Linked DNA regions of Homo sapiens: all the other regions are linked to region 1. The links come from fine-mapping of genetic effects on gene expression. A gene starts in region 1. Each other region holds a variant in brackets. All regions are shown on one strand. Distances are between the middles of the regions. Region 1 holds the start of COMMD9 (COMM domain containing 9). Region 2 has its middle 23 kb from the start of COMMD9. Region 3 overlaps LDLRAD3 (low density lipoprotein receptor class A domain containing 3).

Region 1 (8,162 bases):
GGCTACAGTGAGCCATGATTACACCACTGTACTCCAGCCTGGGTAAAAGAGCAGAGACCCCCATCTCTCTGTCTCTTTTTTTTTTTAAACAAATGTTGGTGCAGATGTGGAGAAATTGAAACCCTTATACATTGCTTCTGGGGACTGTAAAATGGTGCAGTCACTTTGGAAAATGGTCTTACACTTCCTCAAAAGGTTAAACACAGAGTAATCATATGGCCCAGAAACTCCACTATTCCACTCTTCAGTGTATACTCCAAGAGAAATGAAACACATGTTCACACAAAAACTTTGTACATGATTGCTCATGGCAGCATTACTCACAACAGCTAAAAAGTAGAAACAACTCAAATGTCTACAACTGATGAATGAACAAACTATGGTATATCTGTACAAAAAAATATTATTCAGCAAAAAACGAATGAAGTACCGATACAGGCTATAACATGAACGAACCTTGAAGAAGTTTCTCCTCTTATGCTAAGTAGAGGAAACGAGTACAAAACATATGATATGTGGTCTTTTGTACTCGTTTCCTTTACTTAGTATAAGAGGAGAAACCGTATCATATGATCCAATTCATGGGAAATGTCCAGAAGGCAAAACCATAGAGACAGAAAGCAGATTAGCGATTGCCTAGGGCTGGGTGTGATGGGGAGAATTGGGGGCAGAGGTGGGTGTTGATAGCTAAAGGATATGCTGTTTCTTTTGGGGATGATGAACATGTTCTAAAATTAATTGTGGTGATAGTTGGACAACTCTGTGAGTATACTAAAATTCATCGAATTTTACACTTCAAATGGATAAATTGTATGGTATGTGAATGTTAATTCTATTTCAATAAAGCTACTATAAAAAAACCCTCAATACTAAGATTGCTGCCCTTAATCATTTTCTACTAATAAATTCTGTGTCCATATCCCTTGCTTCATATCTGCCCCACTGGAGAAATCAGGGCAAGTGTTCCAAAAGGCTGGTTTCCCCCAAGGCTCAGGGCTCAAACTTGGGTGACTAACTGGCCTGGTTTGTCCAGAACTGTCCCAGCGCTAGCCCTGAAAGTCCTGCATCCAAGGAAACCCCTCATCCCTGGGAAAACTGGGATGGCCAGTCCCCCTCGTGCAAACCCTTGCCCACAACAGGGGAAAGCTCTGCCCTTTAGCGTTGCCAATGACTAGAACTGAGAATCCACATAAGCAATCCTTCCCCTTTTGGGGTATAAGTCATCCTTGAGCTCCCCCTAATGGCCAAAAGGTATTTTTATTATTGTTCCCATTTTACGGATGATGAAATTGAGGTTCCAAGAGGGGAAGTAATTTGCTAACAGTACACAGGAGTTGGAAACTGAACCTAGGTCTTTTCCCAAAGCCCAAGGTAGCCCTTCCACTCACTCATTATATTGTTTCTCACCATCACCAGACTGATTGTACAGGAACACTCTTAGATTGTTCTTGCTGCCTGAGGAAGGTAGTCAGACATGCAAAGAGAAGAAACACAAATTTACAGCTGTGGGACAACAAGGAGACATGTACAGCTTGGCGGTTAACAGTGCAGAATCTGGAGCCAGACTGGCCATATTTGAATCTGGGCTTTGCCACTACTTAGCTGTGTGACCTCAGACTACTTAATCTGCCTATGTCTGTTTCTCCATATGTAAAATGGAAACAATACAGTGTGTGTGCTTATATATGTATATGTACTTATGTGTGTGTGTACATATGTGTGTGTATGTATATACATACGTATATATATAATATCATAGGATAGGAATGGGAAGTAAATTAATCAGTAAATGTAAGGGCTTAGAACAGAGCCGGGCACATAACAAGTTTATTAAATAAATGAAAGTCAGCACTGATTCCTATATTCAGAATTGGAAAGAAATTAGGTTTGGCCTAATGAAAACCAGGCAATGGGACCAAATCACAGAAATGAACTCCGACATTCTGTTTTGTTCCCACCCATGAAAATGTTTATGGTTTAGAAATTGCTGGACATTCTGCAGACCACAGACAAACCTTTACATGCAACATGGCATTGGCAATCTGGGCAGCCCTACCAAAATGGGATGACATGGTGCCATTCATATCATACCAGCCCGCGAGAGTAAGGAGAGCTGGGAATCCTCCCACTGAAGCAGCTCCTGTCGCTCAGCTCTGCTCTCTGAACTAGATGGGTGTGATGAACACCATTTTACAGAGGTGGAAACTGAGGCCCAGAGAAGTTCAAGAATTTGTACACGGAAAAGTTAATAATGTGTAGAATTAGGATTCCAACTCAGGTTGAATTCTAAAACCCCTATGCTTTGCTGCCACCATGCATTAGTTACTATTGCTGTATAACAAATTACTTCAAAGCTTCATAGCTTAAAACAACAAACATTGATAATCTTAATAGTGTTTGAAGGCCAGAAATCCAGGCGTGGCTTCGCTGGGTGGTGCTGGCTCAGAATCTCTCATGAGGTTGCAGTTAAGCTGTTGGCCAAGACTCCTGCCTTCTTAAGGCTCTACTGGGCCTAGACAATCTGCTTCTCAGGTCAGTAATGAAGTTGTTGGCCAGATGCTTCAGTTCCTTGTCACCTAGGCCTCTCTGTAGGACTGTTTACAACATGGCAGTTTGCTTTCCCCAGAGCAAAGGATTCAAGTGAAAGAGAGCAGGGCACATGAGAGAGCACCCAAGCCAGGAGACAGGAACTTCAGTCTTTTTGTTAGTTTTTTGGTGCAGTCTTGTATAACCTAATCTCAGAAGTGATATGCCATTCACACCCACCATTTGCTATTGGTCATGCATACCAATCCTGGTACATGGTGGGAGGTGTCTACACTAGGTTGTGAACACCAGGAGGCTGGGATCATTGAGGGCCATCTTGAAGGCTGGTGACCACACTCCTCATTACTCTAAAGTAAGACAAGAAGGCACAATCCTGCAAATACCAAGGCAATATCCTCAAATAAGTCACAAAATTTCATCTTAGTCTAATCACTTTTTTGGGTGGTTGTTTATTTAACAAATATTCAATTAACCCAAGACAATGGGCCCAGCCCTATAGATACAGGCAGGAGTTAAACCTAGAACCTACATTGAGTTATAACAGAAACCAGGAATCAGGCCATGAGGGTTCATGGAAAAGAGAGGCCAAGAAAGAGAGCTAGAATCAGGACCCTGTGACAAAATGGTTCTAAAATCTTCTAATCCAGGAATGGGTTCCTCCTTAGACAATTTGATTTTTGGTTTCCTGGGCCTTGACAACATCCCCACAGAAAATGGAGTCGGGGAAGGGGAAGGGGGAGGAGAGGAGACAAAGGAACAAATGTCCTTAGCAGCTTACCAATTTCTGGAATTTCACAAATGGGCATTCTTTCTTAAGCTCGAATATATCAGAACCCATTTTTTGAGCTGGAATTTGCTTAAAAAAAAGTGGAGGGTAGGAAAAGAAAAGAGCCACCCAAATACTAAAGGTAGATAAAGGAAATGTCTGTTTTGATGTACGGTCTCTGAGAACAGGGCAAATCAGAGTCCAGTACTGCCAGTGCAAAATCACTCTTTACAATTATATTCATTATAATTACCTTTTTGAATAAATGAACTAAATCATTTCCATTAACCTCCTCCCCCATCTCACCCCCGTATAACAAGAACCTAGCTAGGTAGTAGCTTTCATTCCATTCCTCTCTTGTCCCCTCTCCCAAACACTTCCTCACCTGCTCTTGTAATCAGATCTTCTCTATGACTATGGGAAAGTTACTAAAAACCCTAAATGATTATTTCCCAATCTGGATAATACTAATAATACCAGCTCCAACCTACTACATAGGCTGAAAAACTATATACGCAGAAGTAATTTTACATTCAAGACAGGATGTGTGCATGTGTGTGTGTCAATTCCAAGAAGCCCGATATGCACAGCCTCATTTTCATTCCAAACACTGGTACGCCGATCACTCCTGAACAACTACGTTTCCAAGGCGCCTGCCAAGCTTGCAGGTGCATTCCCCAAGTGCGCCAGCCCACCCACATGGGTCAAGGGAAAACCTGTTTCCCTGACTTGGTAAGTAGACAAGTCAAGCCAATTTCCTCCCCGAGTAAACCATCCTCCGCCCTGGTCCCCCTAGTCCTTTGGTTCTAGAGTCTCGGGGTTTAGTCATCCAGCCGCCGCGTCCGTCTTGATCCGCGCTCACTGCCGCAGCACCACAACCGAAACGCCTTCCCCCACTCTGAAGGACTACAGCCCCCGGCAGGCCCCGCGACAACAGCGACAGCCACGTGACCTCGCTTCCCTGGGTGCCACGGTCATGTGACTTCGGCAAGATGGCTGCCCTGACAGCGGAGCATTTTGCAGCACTCCAGAGCCTGCTCAAGGTAAGTCGAAGGGGTGGGGACAGCGTGAGGTGGCCCTTTGTCTCCGAGACTTTAGACGGAGCAGGAATTGGGAACAAATTGACCCTGGTTTGGAGCCACAACTCTGCTGCTTGTTCTCTGTGTGATCCCAGGCAAATCGTTGCGTCTTTCTGAGCTTTTAAAAAGTAAGAACAAAATATCGTTTTGACAGGAACGTAAGATAAAAAAAAATAAAATAATGGGCATGAAGGCGCAGTACAACCTCCTGCTATTAGTCTTTGGGATTGGTTTTCGGTATTGGTGCATTGAAGTGGTAATTGCTAGACCCACGTTGTCAGTTCCCCATTTCATCCCGTAGCCCCTCCTGCATTGCACAATTAAGAAATTATCTCCTACTGCGTCTGCCCAGCCCTCCGAATGACCTGTGCGTTCAATGTTCCCTTGAGGTCCAGATTTTCCCTACTCTCTTTGACCTGCGAAAGGGGCAGGACATACTCCTGATAATCATTTGAAAAGTTGTGAGGTTGAAAGGGACCTACTTCATAGGGCTTTGTAAAGCTCAAATGAAGTATTATTATTATTTGAGACGGAGTCTAGCTCTGTTGTCCAGGCTGGAGAGCAGTGGCGCAATCTCGGCTCACTGCAACCTCCGCCCCCCGAGTTCAAGCAATTCTATGCCTCAGCCTTCCGAGTAGCTGGGATTACAGGCGCCCGCCACCAAGCCTGGCAAATTTATGTATTTTTAGTAGAGACGGGGTTTCAACATCTTGGCCAGGCTGGTCTTGAACTCCTGACCGCGTGATCCACTCGCCTCCGCCTTCCAAAGTGTTGGGATTACAGGCGTGAGCCACCGCGCCTGGCCGGAATTATTTAACTTATGATTTGCCCTGTAGGAGAAAGGGCAGCTTTATTTTCCTTCGTAGAACTTGTCGCTAGCTATTTGCCCGTTGTCCGTCTGTCTCATAAGAATGTAAGATCCATCAGGGACCTTTCCTTTCTTCCTCTCTCTTTTTTTTTTTTTTTAAACACCAGGTGAAGAGGGTTGAGTTACTCTCCTCAATTTATGGCACATCATCATCATCGGTCCATGTAATAGTCTCTGTTTTGTTTTACTTATTTATTTTTTAATTGCCTTCTCAGTGTTCATTAGCATTCTCCACTCCTAAGGGGATCTACTCTTTTGTTCACAAGTGTTAATGCCCAATAAGTAGAACAATAATACCTGGCACACAGCACGTGCTCAGTAAATAGCTGTTAAATGAATTAATAAATGAAGTAACAGAGCTGGGACTGGCAATCTAGGGCTCTCAGCTCCCAACCCAGTGCCTTTTCACCTTCATTTTGGCTGCTCTGTACCTACCCCCGCCCCTATACCTGTTGGTCTTATGCACTCTTTTCTTTTAAAAACTTTAAAAGATTAGTGTGTAGTATACATACAGAAAAGTGCATAAACCATACATTTACAGTTAAATGATTTATTACACACCAATGTAACCACCACCAAAGTCAAAAAATGAAATGTTACCAGTACCCCAGAAGTCCCCCTTTCGCCCTTTCTTTGCTTCCTCACTTTCTTCCCCAATGGTAACCTCTATGTTTGCTTCTGATACAATTCATTTAATATTGCCCATGTTTGAACTTAACATAAATGGAATAATACAGCATATACTTTTTTTTTATGCCTGGCTTCTTTTGCTCACCATTATGTAGCAGTAGTTCATTGATTTTCATTGCTACTGTCCTGTGTACTTTCTTTTCTTTTTTTAAAAAAATACTTAGACTTTTTATTATGAGATAATTATAAATCCATATGTAGTTGTAAGAAATAATATAGAGAGATCCCATTTATCCTTTACTCAGTTTCCCTCAGTTCTGCAGGATTCTGCGGAACTATACATAATATAGTATATATACTATTATGTATAGTATGTATATAATATAGAGTATACATACTACACGATATACATAGTATGTAGTATACATACTACGCGATATACATAGTATGTAGTATACATACTACGCGATATACATAGTATGTAGTATACATACTACGCGATATACATAGTATGTAGTATACATACTACGCGATATACATAGTATGTAGTATACATACTACGCGATATACATAGTATGTAGTATACATACTACGCGATATACATAGTATGTAGTATACATACTACGCGATATACATAGTATGTAGTATACATACTACGCGATATACATAGTATGTAGTATACATACTACGCGATATACATAGTATGTAGTATACATACTACGCGATATACATAGTATGTAGTATACATACTACGCGATATACATAGTATGTAGTATACATATATAGCATACTTACTATTATGTATGGTTCTGCATAGGGGAAATTGGGTAAAGGATAAATGGATGTCAATACCTAATGTCAAAAGTATTGATATTGACAGTCAAAATACAAAACATTTCCACCACCACAAAGATTCCTCATGAATAGCCACACTCTCCTTAACCTTTGGCGTTATTCATTTCTCTAATTTTGTCATTTCAAGAATGCCGTATAAATGGAATAATACAGTAAGTAACCTTCTGAGATTGACTTTTTTCACTCAGCCTAATTTTCATCCATGTTGTGTGTATCAATAGTTCTTTCCTTTTTATTGCTGAGTGGTATTCCATGTAATGATTGTCCAACAGTGTTGTACTGTGTAGTTTTCAGCATGCACATCCTGTATTTCATTTTTTGAGCAATTGCAAATGGTTTTGGTTTTTTTTGGTTTGTTTGTTTGTTTGTTTGTTTTGAGAGAGTCTCGCTCTGTGGCCCAGGCTACAGTTCAGTGGCATGATCTCAGCTCACTGCAACTTCCACCTCCTGGGTTCAAGGGATTCTCATGCCTCAGTCTACCAAGTAGCTAGGACTACAGGTGCCCACCACCCCTCCAGGCTGATTTTTTTTTTCTTTTCTTTCTTTCTTTCTTTCTTTCTTTTTTTTTTTTTTTTTTGTATTTTTAGTAGAGACAGGGTTTCCCCACGTTGGCCAGGCTGGTCTTGAACTCCTGGCCACAAGTGATCCACCAGCCTTGGCCTCCCAAAGTGCTGGGATTATAGATGTGAGCCACCATGCCCAGCCCGTATTTTTAATTTTAGTGTCCACATGTTCATTGTTAATAAATAGAAATACAACTGATTTATGTATGTTTATCTTCTACATGCAAACTTGCTAAACTCATTGTTTCTAGGAGTTTTTGGTATATTTCTTGGAATGTTCTACATGGAAAATCATGTTATTTACAAATAGAGACAGTTTTATTTCTTCCTTTCTGATCTGCACACATTTTATTTCCTTTCCTTGCCTTATTTTAGTGGCTAGAATTTTCAGCACTGTGTTGATTCAGAGTGGAGAAAGCAGATATCTTGCCTTGTTCTCAGTTTTGGGGGCAAAGCATTCAGTCTTTCACCATTAAGTATAATGTTCACTGTAGGTTTTTTGTAGATACTGTTTATCAAGATAAGGAAGTTCTCTTCTATTCCTATTTTTCTCAGGGCTTTTATCAATAATGGATGTTTAATTTTATCAAATGCTTTCTCTGCATTGATTTATATCATGTGATTTTCTTTGTTAATGTGATGGATTACATAGATTTGCAAATACTGAACCAGCCTTGCATCTGTGGAATAAATCCCACCTGGTCATATTGTATAATTATATATAATTATATGTCTCTATTTGCTAATAAAATATTATACATATATATAACTGATCTCTATTTGCCATTATTTTCTAAGAATTTTCGCATCTATTTTTATGAGGGATATTGGTCTGTAGTTTTCTCATTTTTCTG
Region 2 (8,186 bases), 23 kb after region 1:
AATAATTTGGATGGGTTCAGGGCCATAGGGATGGTCCCGAGTTGTCTGACCCTAGGGTGACTTAGGGCAGAGAGAATATTGGCTTGGTGTGTGAGAGTTTGGTTTTAAAAAGAAGAAGATGGTTGGGAGTGTGGGCTCCAGATTAGCTGGTTTGTACATCAAAGGCACGCTCCCAGGAGAATTGTTTGCCACCCCGCCCCCGACCCGTGTGTCTCTCTCTCTCTCTCTCTCTCTCTCTAGGAATTTGCTAGCCCTGAATGGGGTGACCTCTTTGGATCAAGGACCCAAATGTTAGCGCATGAAGAATACAGAAAATAAGAACATATACTCAATACAAGGTTATGCTGCAGTAACAAACAATCCCAAGGTTGTAGTGGCTTTTTACACAACTAAAGTTTCTTTGCCAATGCTGCACATTCACTGCAGGTTGGAGGAGGAGGGCGGGTAGTCTGCTCACTGTAATCACTAAGGGCCCAGGATGATGGAAGCTTCATCTCAACACATGCCTCCACAATCACCAAGGCAGGGAAAGGGACTATGGCAAATTGCACCTGTGATCTTAAAGCTCCTGCCCAGAAGTAACAGTCAAATCATATGGGCACACCTAACCATGAAAGGGCAGAGAAGCTGAATCCTACCATGTGCCAGGATGGAAGAGAAGTGGGATATTTGTGATTAGTTCTGATGACTACTGACACCTGTCATTGGAACCAAAAGATTCCTCTTTTGCTTAAGCAAAAGGAAGAAGAATTGTTCAAAAGAATTGTGGCCAGGTGCAGTGGCTTGCGCCTGCAATCCTAGCACTTTGGGAGGCCAAGGCGGGCAGATCACTTGAGGCCAAGCGTTTGAGACTGGCCTGGGCAAGATGGTGAAACTCTGTCGCTACATAAAATACAAATATCAGCTGGGCATGCTGGTGTATGCCTGTAGTCCCAGCTATTCAGGAGGCTGAGGTGGGAGGACTTCTTGAGCTTGACTGAGGTGGCAGTGAGCTGAGATCGCACCACTGCTCTCCAGCCTAGGTGACAGAGTGAGACTCTGTCTCAAAATAAAAATAAAAAAGAATTGTAATAATACATGCCCCAACACCCCATTTCAGCTTTTTTTCTCATGATATAATGATAAATCTCCTCACCTGTGTGGCACATGAGAGAACTTGAAACATTTTCTTAGATATCATCTTACCTCTTCACACAAACCTTCTGAGGTTATTGGAGCATCCATTCACAAGTATTTGTGCATTTTACTGAGGACAAGTCAGCTCAGAGTAGTCTGGGGCTGAGCTGGAACTTGTGTCTGGGGCTTTCAACTCAAAAGCCAGTGTTTTCTCCATTCCTGCCTCAATCTGGGGAAGAGAAAACTCATGATTCTTTGCAGATCGCCTAAATTTCCCCTTAATTTGGCAACTTTTGGCTCACTCCGTCATCAGTCCTGCCTTACCATCTCCATCTGGATCATGGTCATTTTCCTTTGCCTCCCTTTTCTGGTGATTTTTAGGTCCAAAGACAAATTGGCACGAGGACCAGACATTTGGGTTCTTCCCACACAAGCCAATTCTCTGAACACACACAGTGGGCACCATGTCCAATAGTCATTAGTCAAGCTCTGTGGTCTGGTATTTACAAATTTCCAGGAAACGAGTCCAGCGTGGTGCGAGAGGCTCTCCGTTACTTTGTTCAGTAAGCTGAGATGTTATCAGAAGTGACAATTTTTAAAAAAATTATTATTTGTTTTAATATTTTAATCTGGAAGCCATTGGCTACCTGGCATTTTGAAAGTTTTCCAGTGGTTGAACATTTACAAGAACAATTGTGAACCTGTGCCTGTTGGCTTCCAAATACTGATCGTTCCTAAACATTCTCTTACCAGCATAATGTTGACCTTTGCACAACTTCCTTCTTTCTTTGGTGCTCACATTTCTGTGATTTAATCGTCCTTTTTACAAGTACTTTAAGAAAGAAAAAATAAAAAAGATTTTCTAGTAGTATTCCCTGGTTGGTGTCAGAGGACCCTAAACTCTAAGGAGAGGGAATGGTTCTTTATTTGGGGAAGTGTCAAGAGCTCTTGAAGGTTAGTCTGAGAGGCTGAGTTTCTATTAGCCTCAGGTCCTTGGGAAAGTCTCTAATGGGCTTTTAGGTCTCATCTGTAAGTAGAGATGATAACTACTTAAGTAATGCATCTCATAAATTTACAGTAAACTGCATAGACCCACAGGCTGAAGAATGGAACTTTCTTGGCTATTGTTATCAATGTTGAACTAGCCATATGACCTAACACACATACCACACAGTAAAATACAATACTGTCCCAACAAACTGAATGATAAAGGATTTGAGAGATGCTCTGGGATATCAGAGGGCATGGGGTCATTGTTATACACATGCTGGATCCCCAGCTCAGGGGATGGCCTCTGCTTAGAATTTCAGGAACTCTGATAAAGCTCTTACTCAAGATATTTTTGCTTATTTGCTTATTAAACATCAGGGAGCAAGAGTCACTGTATTAGGATATTGATTTGGCTGCTTTAACAAAAACCCAGTTTCCATGGATTAAAGAATTTAGAAGTTTCTCTCTATGTAAAAGTCTGAGCTGGTAGGGGCTTTGAGTGGGTAGGATCGTTCTGCTCTGGTTTATAGACTCAGAATCCTTCCATCTTGTTTCACCAGCCACCAAGTATTGCCCTCATTGCTGTGAGCAAAGCCTGTGCCCCATCACCCTCCAAGTCTATATCCCAGCCATGGGAAAGAGGGAAGGGGAAGAGGATGAGGAGGAGGAGGGTATACCCCAGAAGTTGCCACGTTATTTTCACTCATATCCCACTGGCCTCAATCACATGATCTATACTTAGCTGCAAGATAGGTTGGGAAATACAGTCTCTGCTGGGTGGTCTTGTGTGTAGCTAACACATTGGGGTGGGGGAGGGCAGGAGAATGAGCTAGTGGGTTTCTGTATTTTACTGAAATAGAGCAGATAGTGAGAGACAATTCACAGGTACGGTCATAAACACCCACTCAGCTGACTACAGCTCAGTGTGGCTTAATTTATCAGTTGCTTTCCTGGAAGCAGCTTTTCTGCAGGAAGAGAAAAGAACAGAAAGGAACTATGCAGTGGTGGGGAGGAGCAGGTGGTGATGTGGGTGCTTCTTGAGGACAGAGACCATGTCTCATTCACTCGGTATCCATGATATCTTCCACTGTGACTGGCGCACAGTAGATTGCCCCATAAATGTCCCTTTGCATCCCACTTCTTCCACAAACTCACAGGATTTGACCTGTGTAGTAAACCATGCCTGAATTAGATTGAATGCAATAGAATGGCAGACTGACAGAATTCACGCTCACTTGAATTGCTC[G/A]TCCTAAATCGACCTCAGCTGGGCCCTAATTCACCAACTAGGTGATTTCATCATTCTCCAGCTTGCTTTCATTCTCCAGCATTGATTTCTGGCCTTTATTGGTTTTGAGTCTGTGAGCGTGGGAGATTTGTTCATAGCAGTCTCCCAGCCACACTATTTGGCTTGGGTAGGAAGAGGTAGGGATTGGGAACTCTGGATGAGGGTAGGAAGGAGCTGCTGCTGAGGTGGTAAGTGGAGGGGCAGACGTGGATCTTCTGAGCTCCTGCCACTGTAGAGTTCAGGGACCAGCACTTCCAAGGGGTCAGCAAAGTCTCCAACTGCTGGAGGAGGGCAGGAAAGAGGCACTAGCCCTGGGCCTGAGCAGAGGTGGCAGCATGGTCACCAGGGCTTTGCCCCGCCATGCCCTCTCTCTGGAATGCCTTCCCTTAATCCTGGCCTAATTCCTATTCATCCTTCTGGATTCAGGAGCAGCACCTAACAGGGGCCCAGGAAGTCAAATTAACTGGCCTGTCTTCCCCACCTGCGTTTTCTCCATCATTCCTCAGCACACTGCATTTTAATGGTCTGTGTCTGTGCCTTCCCCCACACACTGTTCACCTTTCTGTTCCCCACACCTGAGCGCACAGATAATGGGCAGCTTCTGTGGGTACCGAGAGTTTCCTGGCACCAGCTGAACTGGAAGTGTATCCCTGGGGCTACTTCTATAAAAGACATTATTGGTCAAGGGGCCATACCCTGTTTGGTGACCCAAGGTTCTCATGCGCAAAAGCCAAACCTCACCTGGGCGCAGCTGGAGCTTGCCCAAGATGCCCAGCAGATGGCGCAGTCGTCCTCCTTATCTTCCCACCCTGGCCTAAAATCGGAACAAAGACCAGGGAAGCTGAGGGAAGGTGGGGTAGTGGGCAGGCCTCTCCTAGAACCCCGCAAGGGGAGACGCTTCCTGCAAAAGAAAACCTCAGGCCCAGACCCTTCACCTAACAGAACTCTCCTGCTCAGGCCCTGGGCAACATAGGCAGAGAAGGCAGAAGACAGAGCAGGCAGCGCAGGCCCACCCAGGGCACCCATTCAACCCTGCTCCCCAGACCCAGCTGCAGAAGCCCCCAGGGTCTCCTCGGTGCTTCTGAAATGCCACCATTAGGGCCCATTAGATACAACTCTTCCAGATCAGGTTTTGCTCATGGCAACCATGCAAGTCCCACAGTCAGTCCACAGTGGAACTTTCTACACCTGGACAGGTGGTGGAGCCAGGATTCAAATTTAGGTCTGCTTAGAGCTAAGTCTCAGTTTCTCATCTCTAAAAGGGAGAGATGGAAAGTACTTTTTCCTGGCAATGCAGCTTGGAGGGGATTCATTGTACATGAAGGTGTCTGAGAAATAAAAGATGCCCAGTGTTGGTTTAACTTCAAATATGTACACAGGTGCCTCCACTGGGGTGAGCCCTTCCACACATCAGAGGACTCATCAGTTCTTTTCTGAGAGTAGGTTTGATGTGATGGGGTTGGGGATGGGGGGACATGGCAAGGAGTCCTTGTCACCTCTCATCTGGACGAGTCCAAAGGCCTCCAAACTGGTTCCCTGCCTCCCATCGTGCCATCCCTCTCACCCCGCCTCCCATCCTTCCTCCTCATTGCTGCAGGTGTCTTGCAAATGGAAATCTGATGTCACTCTCCTGCCTAAAATACTCAGAATAAAGCCCAAACTCAGAAAAATATTATTCAGTGTCCTTTACAACCTGATTTCTGACGACATTTTAGTCTCATGAAATAAAATTAAGAAATGGACTTAAATCAGAATCAGCAGTGCCAGGGCCAGGGGCTGGAATGGGTCCTGGGTGATGATTCGGGTCAGCTCTGGGCCTCAAGGCCAGAAGCAGTGACAGGATGAGGAAGAAGGGAATGAGAGGGCTTGGTAGCCCGCATTGTCCAATTCTCGATCTGCGTTTTCTCAAGGGCAGGGCCTGGGACAGTGCCTGTAGTTACAGATACTCAGTCAGGATTTGTTGAATGCATGTAGGAATGAATGAACAAATGAATGAAAAAAATGGCTATCCTGACTGGGACTAGGGTTGACTGAGTGGTCACTCAGTCAGTGCCACCAGCCACTGCCTTTTGCTAACCTCAGAGGCTGGAAGGGGCACTGCTGGAGGACAGTGAGGCTAAGGAGAAGAGAGCTCGTCTCAGCTGCACCATCTGGGACCCAGCTCTAGGGGTCTGGGTAACAGTGACATCAAGAGCAGAAATCCTAGAGCCTGCTATGCCCACAGCCTCTGAATGCTTGTCCCAAACCTCCCAAGAAAATCACCCGGGCTGCAGAGCCCCAGGGAACCCCCGTGGTCATCCAGGGTGCATGGGCATGACTGCTGACCATCTGTTTCCCAGGATGGATTTCTCCCTGGCACAGATGGTGAATCCAGACTCCTCTCTCCCATGTCAAACAGCCAGCTGTGGAAGACACTGCATTGCTGCAGTCTCTGCCTGGTCTCTCTCGTGACCCCATTTTCCACATCATTCGCCTCCACTCCTCTCCACATGTTGGTTTCATTTCAACCTTACCCAAAAAGAACTCCTCCCTCTGGTTGGTCTGTTGAGCCATCTCACAAAATGAAATTCATAGCGTCTGAAGCAGTGGGAAACTCTTCTCTTTGCTTGTTTAGCAGAGACATGGGTATCCCTTCATCCCCCTTCACAACCTTAGCCCATCCTCATCATGATCTCTCACCTGGAATACTGGATTAGCCTCCAAAGGGCACCCTGCACTGGCCTTGTCCTCCCCAAGTCCAGCCTTCCCAGTGCTTTCCAGAAAGTAAACTTGATCTGGTTTTACTCGCTAAACCTGGTCCCACCTTCCCGGGCTTCTCCATCTTAGTAAACAACAGCTCCAACCAGAGACGTGGGAAACATCACTGCCTCCTTCTCTGCCTGCTGCTATACCCACCTTCCTCCCATTTAATCCATTAGCAAGACTTGCTGGTTCTCTCTCCAAAATATACTCACATTGGTCCATTTCTCTCCATCTCTGCACCACCTTGGTTAATGACTCTGTCATTTCTCACCTATGGTAGCCTCTAAGCATGATGACATCTGACACCCTCTGCCTCCTGAGCTCATAACACTTTCCTCAGCACTCCATTCACACCAACCTTCCTTCAGTTCCAAGAGTCCTCCAAAGTCTTTCCAGCCGCAATGCCTGTGCACTCACTGCATCCCCCACCCACCCCTCGCCCTGCTCCAAACTGTAACACTCTTTCCCCTGCTCTTGAAAAGACTGGGTTCTTCCCATTTTTTTAATACTTATCTAAAAGATCACTATCTTAGAGAAAGTTTCTCAAGCTATGCTCTCTAAAGAGGATTCCTTCTTTTATTCTGAATCACAGCATCCTGTTCATTTCTTGCCCCCCACCACTCCACGCCATGGAAAGTCTTATTAATTCAGTGAACTGATGTGCATTCTCATTTATTTACCATGGTCGTTGTCTGTCTCCCCACTGGAGACATGAAGATGAGCAACTTGTCTATCTTGTTCGATGTTATATCCCCATAGCCTGGCACGGAGTACCTGCTCAATAAATATTTGCTAACTGAATGTAATAAATGAATGGAAGATGCATCATGGCACTGTCCTGCTTTTCTCTGTCAATGGCTTCCCATTGTCCCCAGTATGCTGTCAAAACTCCAAACTCCATAGGGCTCCATTAGAGTTTCTTCACGACCTTACCTCAGCTCACCTTTCCAATGTCTTCATTAGGTTTATGGGGAATCAATCTGGAAAGGTTCAAGTCATAATGGGTTCCATGGTGCAGACGAGAGCACTGGCCTGGCAGTGAGAAAAAGGGACATTGAACAAATGATCTTTATGATTCCAGGCAGTGCTTCCATTGTGCAGTCTGAGGTTTGTTTGAGTGTGTGGTTAGTTTGTTTGTTTGTTTGCTGTTTGTTTTTTAAACCATAGCTGGGATGAAACTCTCAATCAAGAAGCCAAGGGAGAAATTTGAGAAGAGAAGCAACAGCTCTTGCTGTCTTGGATGGCTGGGAAGGGATATGCAGAGATCAGGAATCCCTAGTGCTGACTCGGGCCAGGCAGCGTCAGGAGTCTCAAGAAAACAAACCCTGGAGATTGGCAGGTCCAAGAGCAGGGCGGGGGGCCACACCGGTCTCGTTCACCTTCTATCCCCAGTGCTTAGTCTTTGGCACATGGTAGGTCCTTGGTGAAAGGTTGGGGGGAAGCACATGCCACGGGGACCGGAAACCCCGTCCCACTCATGTCACTGCTGAGTGTCATCGAGATCACAAGAAAGCCCCCCAGGCCATGGTCCCTCTCAATGAGAAGCATCTATGGATGGCAGGGGCAGGGCTATTTGCCCCACTCGTCTGCCCTCCTCAGACCTCAACTGAGCCTTCAGCCGCCCCCAGTGTACATGTCCTACTGGCCCAGCCTCAGTTTTGCTCCCTCCACTGCTAAACATATCTGACAGATCAAACATATTTGCTGGCTCTTTGCAATGGCTCTGTGTCTAGATAGGGTTTCTTTTCTTTTCTTTTTCTTTTTTTTTTCTTTCTTTCTTTTCTTTTCTTTTCTTTTTTTTTTTTTTTTTTTTTTTTTGAGGCAGGGTCTCGCTCTGTTGCCCAGGCTGGAGTATGGTGTAATCTGGGTTCACTGCAGACTCAACCACCTGGGCTCAAGCAGTCCTCCCACCTCAGCCTGCCAAGTATCACACACCACAACAGCCCACCTGATTAAAAAAAAAAAAAAGTACAGATGCAGTCTTGCTTTGTTGCCCAGGCTGGTTGCAAACTCCTGGGCTCAAGCAACCCTCCTGCCTCAGCCTCCTAAAGTG
Region 3 (8,186 bases), 98 kb after region 1:
GGTAGCAGGGGGTAACTTCCCTTTCTTTACGTGCAGATGCTAAACACAAGTAAATATAGACCCAGAGGTATCTGAATTTTATGCACATATGGGGAATTAACAGTGGCATGTCTCTGGCTCTCCTGTCTTTCCTGCTTCAATGCCAAATTCACCATGTCACTGCTGGGTCAAGTGTCTTGGGTGACTGAGGAGGGGAGCCACAGAGGGATTTAGAATATATTTTTCCTTAAGAACAGTGACTCAAAGTCAGGCCATGAACAAATATACACAGGCACAAGTCTGATGCATCGAAGGGCTGTTTTGCAGCCCTTTAGTCTGGCTTTTAGAATTATGAGTCCTTTCTCCCTATTTTAAAATGTTCAATTCCTATTCAGCTGTTCTTTCTATACTCTGAGCCTTAATCATGAAAAGCTACTTGAATGTTCAAAAGGAATTAGACGGTGGGACTTCAGGGGCCAACAACAGAGAATCAGTTGGAACAACATAAATGGCCAATAACAGGGGATGAGCTGGACCCTGCACAATGTTATAAACAGTGGTTAGGTGTAACTAGAATGGTGGTGTTCACAGTGTGCTTCTGGTCCATAAGAAATAGGTTTTCATGGACTTATGTGCAATGCCAACATAGTACGATGCTTCTATGCTTCTAGAAAAATGCACAACTTTCCCTGCTGGCTCAACATCTTCCTCATCCTACCACTATTCATCCTAAATACTCCTACTGTTACTACTAATGATGGTAATGATGATGATGAAGATGATGATAGCAGCCGTGGCTAACATTTACCAAGGGCTTTCTAGAAGCTGATGTCTTTATGAAATGTTCTATATGGATTACCAACCTCATTTCCTCTTTTAAAAAGCTCTATAACAGAAGTATGGTCCTCACTCCCACTTTGCACATGGTAAGACTGAGGTACAGAGAGGTTTAGGAACTTTCCCAAGGTTGATTGGAAGAAATGCAAGCCCAGTGATGAGCTGTCTGACTCCAGAGCCCATTCTGTTAATTATTTTAGACTACTGCCTTCTCCGCCTAATTGTCAGGTCTGAACAGGCAGGGACCACATCTGTCTTAGTATCACCGTATTGTTGTAAATAAAATTGTGCTTGACACACAGCAAATCTCCACAAATCTAGTATTGTGGACTGAATGAATGAGTCAAGGATGACAGAGTTTTAGAGAACTGGGAATCCCTGAACATTGCTTATTTTTTCAGATGGGACAAAGCTATTGTCTTCATTGTGTCCTTACTGGTAGGGGTATGGTTGAGTTCTAAGACAAGTGGATTCACACTGGGTTTCTGGCAGAGATTGTGAATTACAGTTGGGCAACCATGAACCCATGGAGAATAGGACTGTATCTAATCACCAAGACTCCAAGTCCTGGGAGTAAACCATATGCCCAGTGGTGGCACCAGGCTTGCCAACAGACATCTCCACACAGGAAACCTGAGATAGGACCTGGAGGATATGGTGGTCACTAGGTGGTTGAAAATGTTCCTGAATTTCTCTCCTTCCAGATACACAATAGGATTACACTTCCCTGGCCCCTTAGAAGTTCTGATCTGGCTAGGTGATGGGCTTTGGCCAGTGAAATGTGAGTGGCCTAGCTCCCTGGGTAACTAAGATGAGAGACGCCTGCCCTACTAATCCATCATGGACCTACAAAGCAAGTGGGAAACAAACCTCTATTGTTTGAAACTGCTGAGACTTGGGCCTGTAAGTTACCAAAGCACCACCTAGCATATACCAACTCAGGGGGCTAAGGTACACAGACAAAACATCCGGGCCCTGCACCTAAGGAGCCTGTATTCTGGCAAAGCAAAAAACCATGCACAAATGAAACAACAAGGGGAAGGGAACTGTAATATGTAAGCAGCTAAATGCCAGATGTGATACTAAGAACTTTATGTAATAATAATCTCATGTGTTATCTCACCTCTCAATGTCCCCATTTGTAAACTGGGAATAATGACAGTATTCCCAGTTTATAAATTCCTATTTGGTGAGAACATTGAGAAGTAAAATAACATTCCCAAGATGTCTCAGCTAGTAAGTGGCAGAGCTAAGATCTGAATCCAAATCTGTCAGACCTCCAAAGCCTCAAGCCCTTTCCACTACACTCGGTGGCTTTTCAGGACAAGGAAATTTACTCAAAGCTGCATGAGACCAGTGCTGGCTATAGCCCCAAAGGCTGCTAAGACAAGGCATAAAGGAATGAGGAGGGTAAAGGTGTCAGGGCGAATTTTTGAAAGAAGTGGGTTTCATTTCAAATCAATTATTAAAACTAAGTGGTGCTCTTAACAGGAGAGCTGGGAGGGGCATGCGACAACATCTAGCACACAGAGGCAGTAGGCACAAAGGTAGATGAGGAATAAGGTGACTGGCTGGACAGAAAAGATGCAAAGCACACATCTCAGCGTGCAAAGCTTTAAATAACAGGCTGGGGTGTTTCGATCTTCTAACCGCAGTGGGCTCCTCAGCAGGTGTGGGAAGTGATAAAAGCCGTGTTGATGTAAAATTGTTCTGGCGACTGTATGCAGGATGAGCTACAGCAGAAAGAGGGAGAGAGACTCAGGGTGGCCAGATAAGCTATTTTGGTGGCCAGACAAAAGGAAAGTAGGCCTGAATTAGGAGAGAAGCTGTGGAAAGGAAAAGGCAGGAAAGTAATAATCACCTTCATGAATTGAGCTCTCACTAGTTGCCATATTTTGGGCTAAGCAATTTGTATACATTGGCTCACAGAATGTTCCCAACACTCTCGAGGATGCAGCATTACCCCCATTTTACAGATGAGGAAACTGGGGCTCGGAGAGATTCCGTGATTTTCCCACAATGATACAGCAAATATAATACTGAGTTAATAGCTAATGTATGATAGGTGCTAAAAGCATATCCTAGGTCTTCTTTAATGTTACAACATAGACACTACTATTATTCCCATTTTACAGAAGAGAAAATGGAGGATCAGGGAAGTGAAGTAACTTCCTCTGAGTTGCACCCAGCTAGTAAGTAGCAAGGTCCAGATTTGAACTCCGTTGAGTTTGGCTCCAAAGTCCATGCTCTGAATTGCTATACTCACGAGCATGTGCATTTGGCCCCTGAGGCTTTGGCTGGTTTGGCCGGGGAGCAAGTGGCAAGATCTCATCTCAGGAAAGGAGTCTCCATCATTCACCCTAAAAGGTTCCAGGGAGACAACTCCGGTAACACATTCTGCATTTGGAGTTTGTAATGGAAGGTGTCACAATTCATGCCCTGGACCTAATCCAGGTTGCCTAGGAGTGTGAGAGAAAAAGAGAATGAATTCTTATCCTGCACATATGCCAGATATATGCATGTGGCTTTGCTTTGAAGAGCAGGGCAGCATTATAACTTACCCCACAAAGCGGCCTTGTGATGCTTTGTGTGTGACCCAAACCCATTTAGATGGCACTTCTGCCTTCTCCTCTAGTTTGTGGTAGACCAAAATGCTCAGAATTGGGTTTTTCAAAAAACCACTCATCCTGCAGTTACCTGCAGAGAAAAAAGTCAGGTCACAGGCTTCTGAAATGTTCCCACAGCATCTGTGCTTCCATCATTAAGGTGGATCCAAGATTGGGAGACAAGTGGGGGTGCAGTGGTCTTCTGCATGCCCAGATCATCTGTTGCGAGGCTAGAGATGCTTGAAAGAGGTTTTTGTTTGATAGCTCACGTTTAAAGTGCAAGTACTGTCACAGACCAATTGTTCCTACCAGCGCATTCTTGAAATTCCACTTTTA[T/C]TTCTATCAAAGTAACATGTGCACACAATTTAAAGAGTCAAATAGTTGTAAGAGGCTTGATAAAAGCGATCGCATTCTTTGACCCTCATCTTCCAGAAGTAGTCATTTTCTACTATTTTGGTTAGCTCTTTTGAAAGCTTACTGCCTTATCTCTAAATAGCATGCTTGTATGCTACTTTGTGATTCTTTAGTTTGAGGAATTATCTATTGTCTTCCCACTCTAAAAGGTGAGGATTTAGTTCTAGTTTATTACCATCTCTGCCACTGCCACACATATGCCCATTTTCAAGCCCCTTAGTTAGACAGTAATTACAGATAATCACTGTTTTTATTATCTTGATCAAGAAAATGCTACAGATGAACAACACAGGTATACTATGATTTGAACACTTTTCTTCCTGGGAAAACAAAAGTTTCCCCCTCCCCATTTGTTTAGCATTCCATATATTTCTCAATAATTCAAACACAAAGTCTTTCCCAGATTCATAAATCTCTTCTCAACGAATTCAAATACATTAAGTATTCTATCAATTTCTTCTTTGTGCGTGCGTGCGTGCGTGTGTGTGTGTGTGTGTGTGTGTATATATATATATATATATATATAGAGAGAGAGAGAGAGAGAGAGAGAGAGAGAGAGAGAGACAGGGTCTTGCTCTGTCACCCAGGCTAGAGTGCAGTGGCGCGCTCATAGCTCACCACAGCCTCAAACTCCTGGGTTCAAGCAATCCTCCAATCTCAGCCTCTGGAGTAGCTGGGATTGTAAGCGAGCACCACCACGCCCAGCTATAATAATTTTTAATTTTTCTGTAGATATGGGGTCTCAGTATGTTGTTCAGGCTGGTCTTGTATTCCTGGCATCAAGTGATCCTCTTTCCTCAGCCTCCCAAAGTGTTGGGATTACAGGCCTGAGTGAGCCACCATACTACTTGGCCTATCAAGTTCTTCCTATAGAAATCTCTCCCCACACCTTCGGATCCACCACTGTCTGGACAAAGGGCTCCCAGGCCTGATACACAGCCGCCACCCTGTGATGGCCCTTCAGTGTCATTCCAGAGGCTCCTTTTCACTCTCTAAGGTTGGATCCCCAATTTCCCATATCCTGTGTCTTTCTTTTTCTTGGTTTACTCCCTTGGTTTTGGTAGACCGTATTTATTAGCAGCTTCTTGAAAGGACTGTATGAGACTAACTTTTTAATCATTTCTGAAAATGTCTTTATAGTACAGAACTTGAGTTGAAACGATTTGTTTCAGAACTGTCTTCTCATGTCCAATGTTATTGAGAAGACTGACACCATTTTGATTCTTGAACCTTTGTAAAAACACTTACTTTCATTTATGTATTTATTTTTGTAATGCCCTCTCTAGAAACTTGTAGGATCTTCTTTTTGCCCAATGTTCTGAAATTTCATAATGATGTGTTTGGTGTGGTTTACTGTCATTCACCAATCTGAGCATTAGGTGGGCTCTTTTCTGTCTGAAAACCACTGTTCTTTGGTTCAGGGAGCATTTTCTTCAATTTCTCATTTTTTTTCTCTCTTCTCTCTAGAATTCCTACGATTTGGATATATATCTCCTAACCCGGTCTTCAGTTTTTCTTATTTTCAATTTCCTTGTGTTTTTCTACCTTCTGGGATATACCTTCAAATTTATGACCTAACTTTTTCCATTATTATGTTTTTTTAGAGACAAGGTCTCACTCTGTTGCCCAGGCTGGAATGCAGTGGTGCAATCATAACTCACGGCAGACTTTAACTCCTGGGATCAAGCAATCCTCCCACCTCAGCCAACTGAGTAGCTAGGACTACAGGCATGTGCCGCCACACCCAACTAATATATTTTTTAAATTGTTTGTGAAGATGGGGTCTCACTATGTTGCCCACACTAGTCTTGATTTCCTGACCTTAAACAATCCCAACTTTTTCAAGTTAAATTTCTATGAGTCCTTTCCTGTTTAGTCCTTTAAAAGAGGGGAGGCATCTTATTTTTATTTCAAGGATTCTGTATCTTCAGTCATCTTTTAGGTTTTTCTGTTTTAAGTTTCCTTCTCTTGATATAGCCTGTTTCCCTCCAAAATGCTTTTCTCCTCTTTCTCCTCCTCCTCCCCTCCCCCCTCCCCCTAGATGTGTGAGTGTTCTGTCTTTCATATTCAAGGTTTCTGTCAAGTGTCAAATGTCTGGTGATCCTTGGCTGACACTCATTTTTAAGTGTGGGACACTAAAAAGCTATGTGGCACATATACACCATGGAATACTATGCAGCCATAAAAAAGGATGAGTTCATGTCCTTTGTAGGGACATGGATGAAGCTGGAAGTCATCATTCTCAGCAAACTATCGCAAGAACAAAAAACCAAACACCACATGTTCTCACTCATAGGTGGGAACTGAACAATGAGAACATTTGGACACAGGAAATGGAACATCACACAGTGGGGCCTGTTGTGGGGTGGGGGAAGGGGGGAGGGAAAGCATTAGGAGATATACCTAATGTAAATGACGAGTTAATGGGTGCAGCACACCAACATGGCACATGTATACATATGTAACAAACCTGCATGTTGTGCACATGTACCCTAGAACTTAAAGTATAATAATAATAAAAAAAAAGTAAATTCGTGGTTACGTAGGCCTAGGGTGTAGATGGGGGTGCAGGGGGTGATAGCTAAAGGACAAGGGTTTTTTTTTTCTTCTTCATTTTTTGAGATGGAGTCTCGCTCTGTCACCCAAGCTGGAGTGCAGTGGCACAATCTCGGCTCACTGCAACCTCCGCCTCTCGGGTTCAAGCAATTCTCCTGCCTCAGCCTCTCATGTAGCTGGGATCACATGTGTGCCACCACGCCCAGCTAATTTTTGTATTTTTAGTAGAGACGGGGTTTCACCATGTTGGCCAGGCTGGTCTTGAACTCCTCACCTCAAGTGATTCACTCACCTCAGCCTCCCAAAGTGTTGGGATTACAGGTGTGAGCCACTGCATCCAGCCTAGGGGTTTTCTTTTTGAGGTGATAAAAATGTTCTGAAGTTTATAGTGATGATGCTTGCAAATTCTGCAAGTAGACAATGCAGTGATGGTTGCAAATTCTATAAATATGTTTAATGTGATGATGGTTGCAAATTCTATGAAAAACCCAAATTGTACAATTTCAATGAGTGAAAGCATGCTATGTGAATGTCTTAATAAAGCTTTTATTTTAAAAAATGGAAAAAAAAAAAAAGCTCTTGGTTGTGGGCTTCACCATTAGATGATTCAGTTGCGCCACTTCATTGACATCCAATCTCTTAAACTGGTGAGTTTTCCCAAAGAAGACTTTTATAAACTCCTGCTTAGAAGGAATATGAGCCTGGCTGGCTGTGTTCTGGGACCTGACTTGAGGAAAAGGGCTAGTAGTTTCAATGTTCATTATGTTGACTTATGCTAAATCCCTGTTTTCAGAAACGGACCCCCATTCTCAGCTGTGCTTCATATCTGGTATTCCAGAGACCTGTTCTACCCTCAGCAGAGAGTAAGCTCCAGTCTTCTGCCTGGGTGTGAGAGGGGCAGTCGCTAGGCTGTGTAGCATAGGGAAGGAATATGAAAGTGTCATAGCTTCCTAACGAAATTTCAACTAATCTTCCCATTTTTAGCCCATCTCTTCTGTTTCCAGAGTTATCTCAAGTTGCCAATTCCCAGGCCTTCTGGAAGTATATCTGGTTGCCTCTTGGTTCTCCTGAGTGCCAGCTTAGAATTCCATTTTCTGAGTTCACTAATCCAGTCATAGCTCACCCATTTGTTCTCCAGCTTCCACAATTTTTTTTTTTTTTTTTTTTTTTTTTTTGCTGGTTTTCCTCTCCTTTTCTTTGTCCCTGTGGATTTACCCTTTAAAAAACCATTCTTTTAGAGGAAGGAAACAGAGGTAAATGTGAGTATTCAAGTTACCACTTTAAACTACAAGTTTTGAAGGTAGGTAGTCATATCATTTACTCCCCTCAACTATTGAAGGCACCTGGACTTCCCAGGTAAGTGATACTAATGGAATTCTGCGTGCCCTGTGCTGCGGTGACCAATCTCTTCTCGATGTGGTGCACTTTTCAACATAGAAAGCATGCTGGGTCAATAGTAAGAAAATAGGGGTTAATTCTAGCTCTGATTCCTACTCATCGTTATCCTTGGTATCATTTGTAGTCTCAGGATAAAAACCACCAACCTATGTACTTTCAGGGTTCTTAGTAGGATCAAACAGGATAATGACTGTGAAAGCACTTCAAAAAGCACAAAGTACTACAGAAACACAAGGCTTTGCTATTACTTAAAAACCTCACTTTCATCTCTTGAAATTCAATCTAACGTTATCTTGGCCTGTCTTCAGGAGACAGAGGCTTGTCTCCAGTAATCATATAAATCATCCTTGTGGCATTCAAAAGAAATGTCCTGTAGTCACACAGACATATGACTTG

Evidence for each region. PIP is the estimated chance that this variant, and not a neighbour inherited with it, causes the effect.
Region 2: its variant is fine-mapped to the expression of COMMD9 in whole blood (TOPMed, PIP above 0.99).
Region 3: its variant is fine-mapped to the expression of COMMD9 in whole blood (INTERVAL, PIP above 0.99).

Annotation. Positions count from the first base shown.
Region 1 is chr11:36,285,556-36,293,717 of GRCh38, reverse strand. It overlaps COMMD9 (COMM domain containing 9), which reads left to right and starts at 4,294. Exons shown (of 6, transcript NM_014186.4): 1 at 4,294-4,356. The coding sequence starts at 4,306. RefSeq lists enhancers at 4,144-4,393, 4,230-4,932.
Region 2 is chr11:36,262,190-36,270,375 of GRCh38, reverse strand. No RefSeq gene overlaps it. Among named protein-coding and RNA genes, the nearest start is that of COMMD9, 23 kb to the left of the region's middle. The variant G/A (reference allele first, on the strand shown) is at 3,353.
Region 3 is chr11:36,187,753-36,195,938 of GRCh38, reverse strand. The region is part of intron 4 of LDLRAD3 (low density lipoprotein receptor class A domain containing 3); the gene reads right to left. Among named protein-coding and RNA genes, the nearest start is that of COMMD9, 98 kb to the left of the region's middle. The variant T/C (reference allele first, on the strand shown) is at 3,759.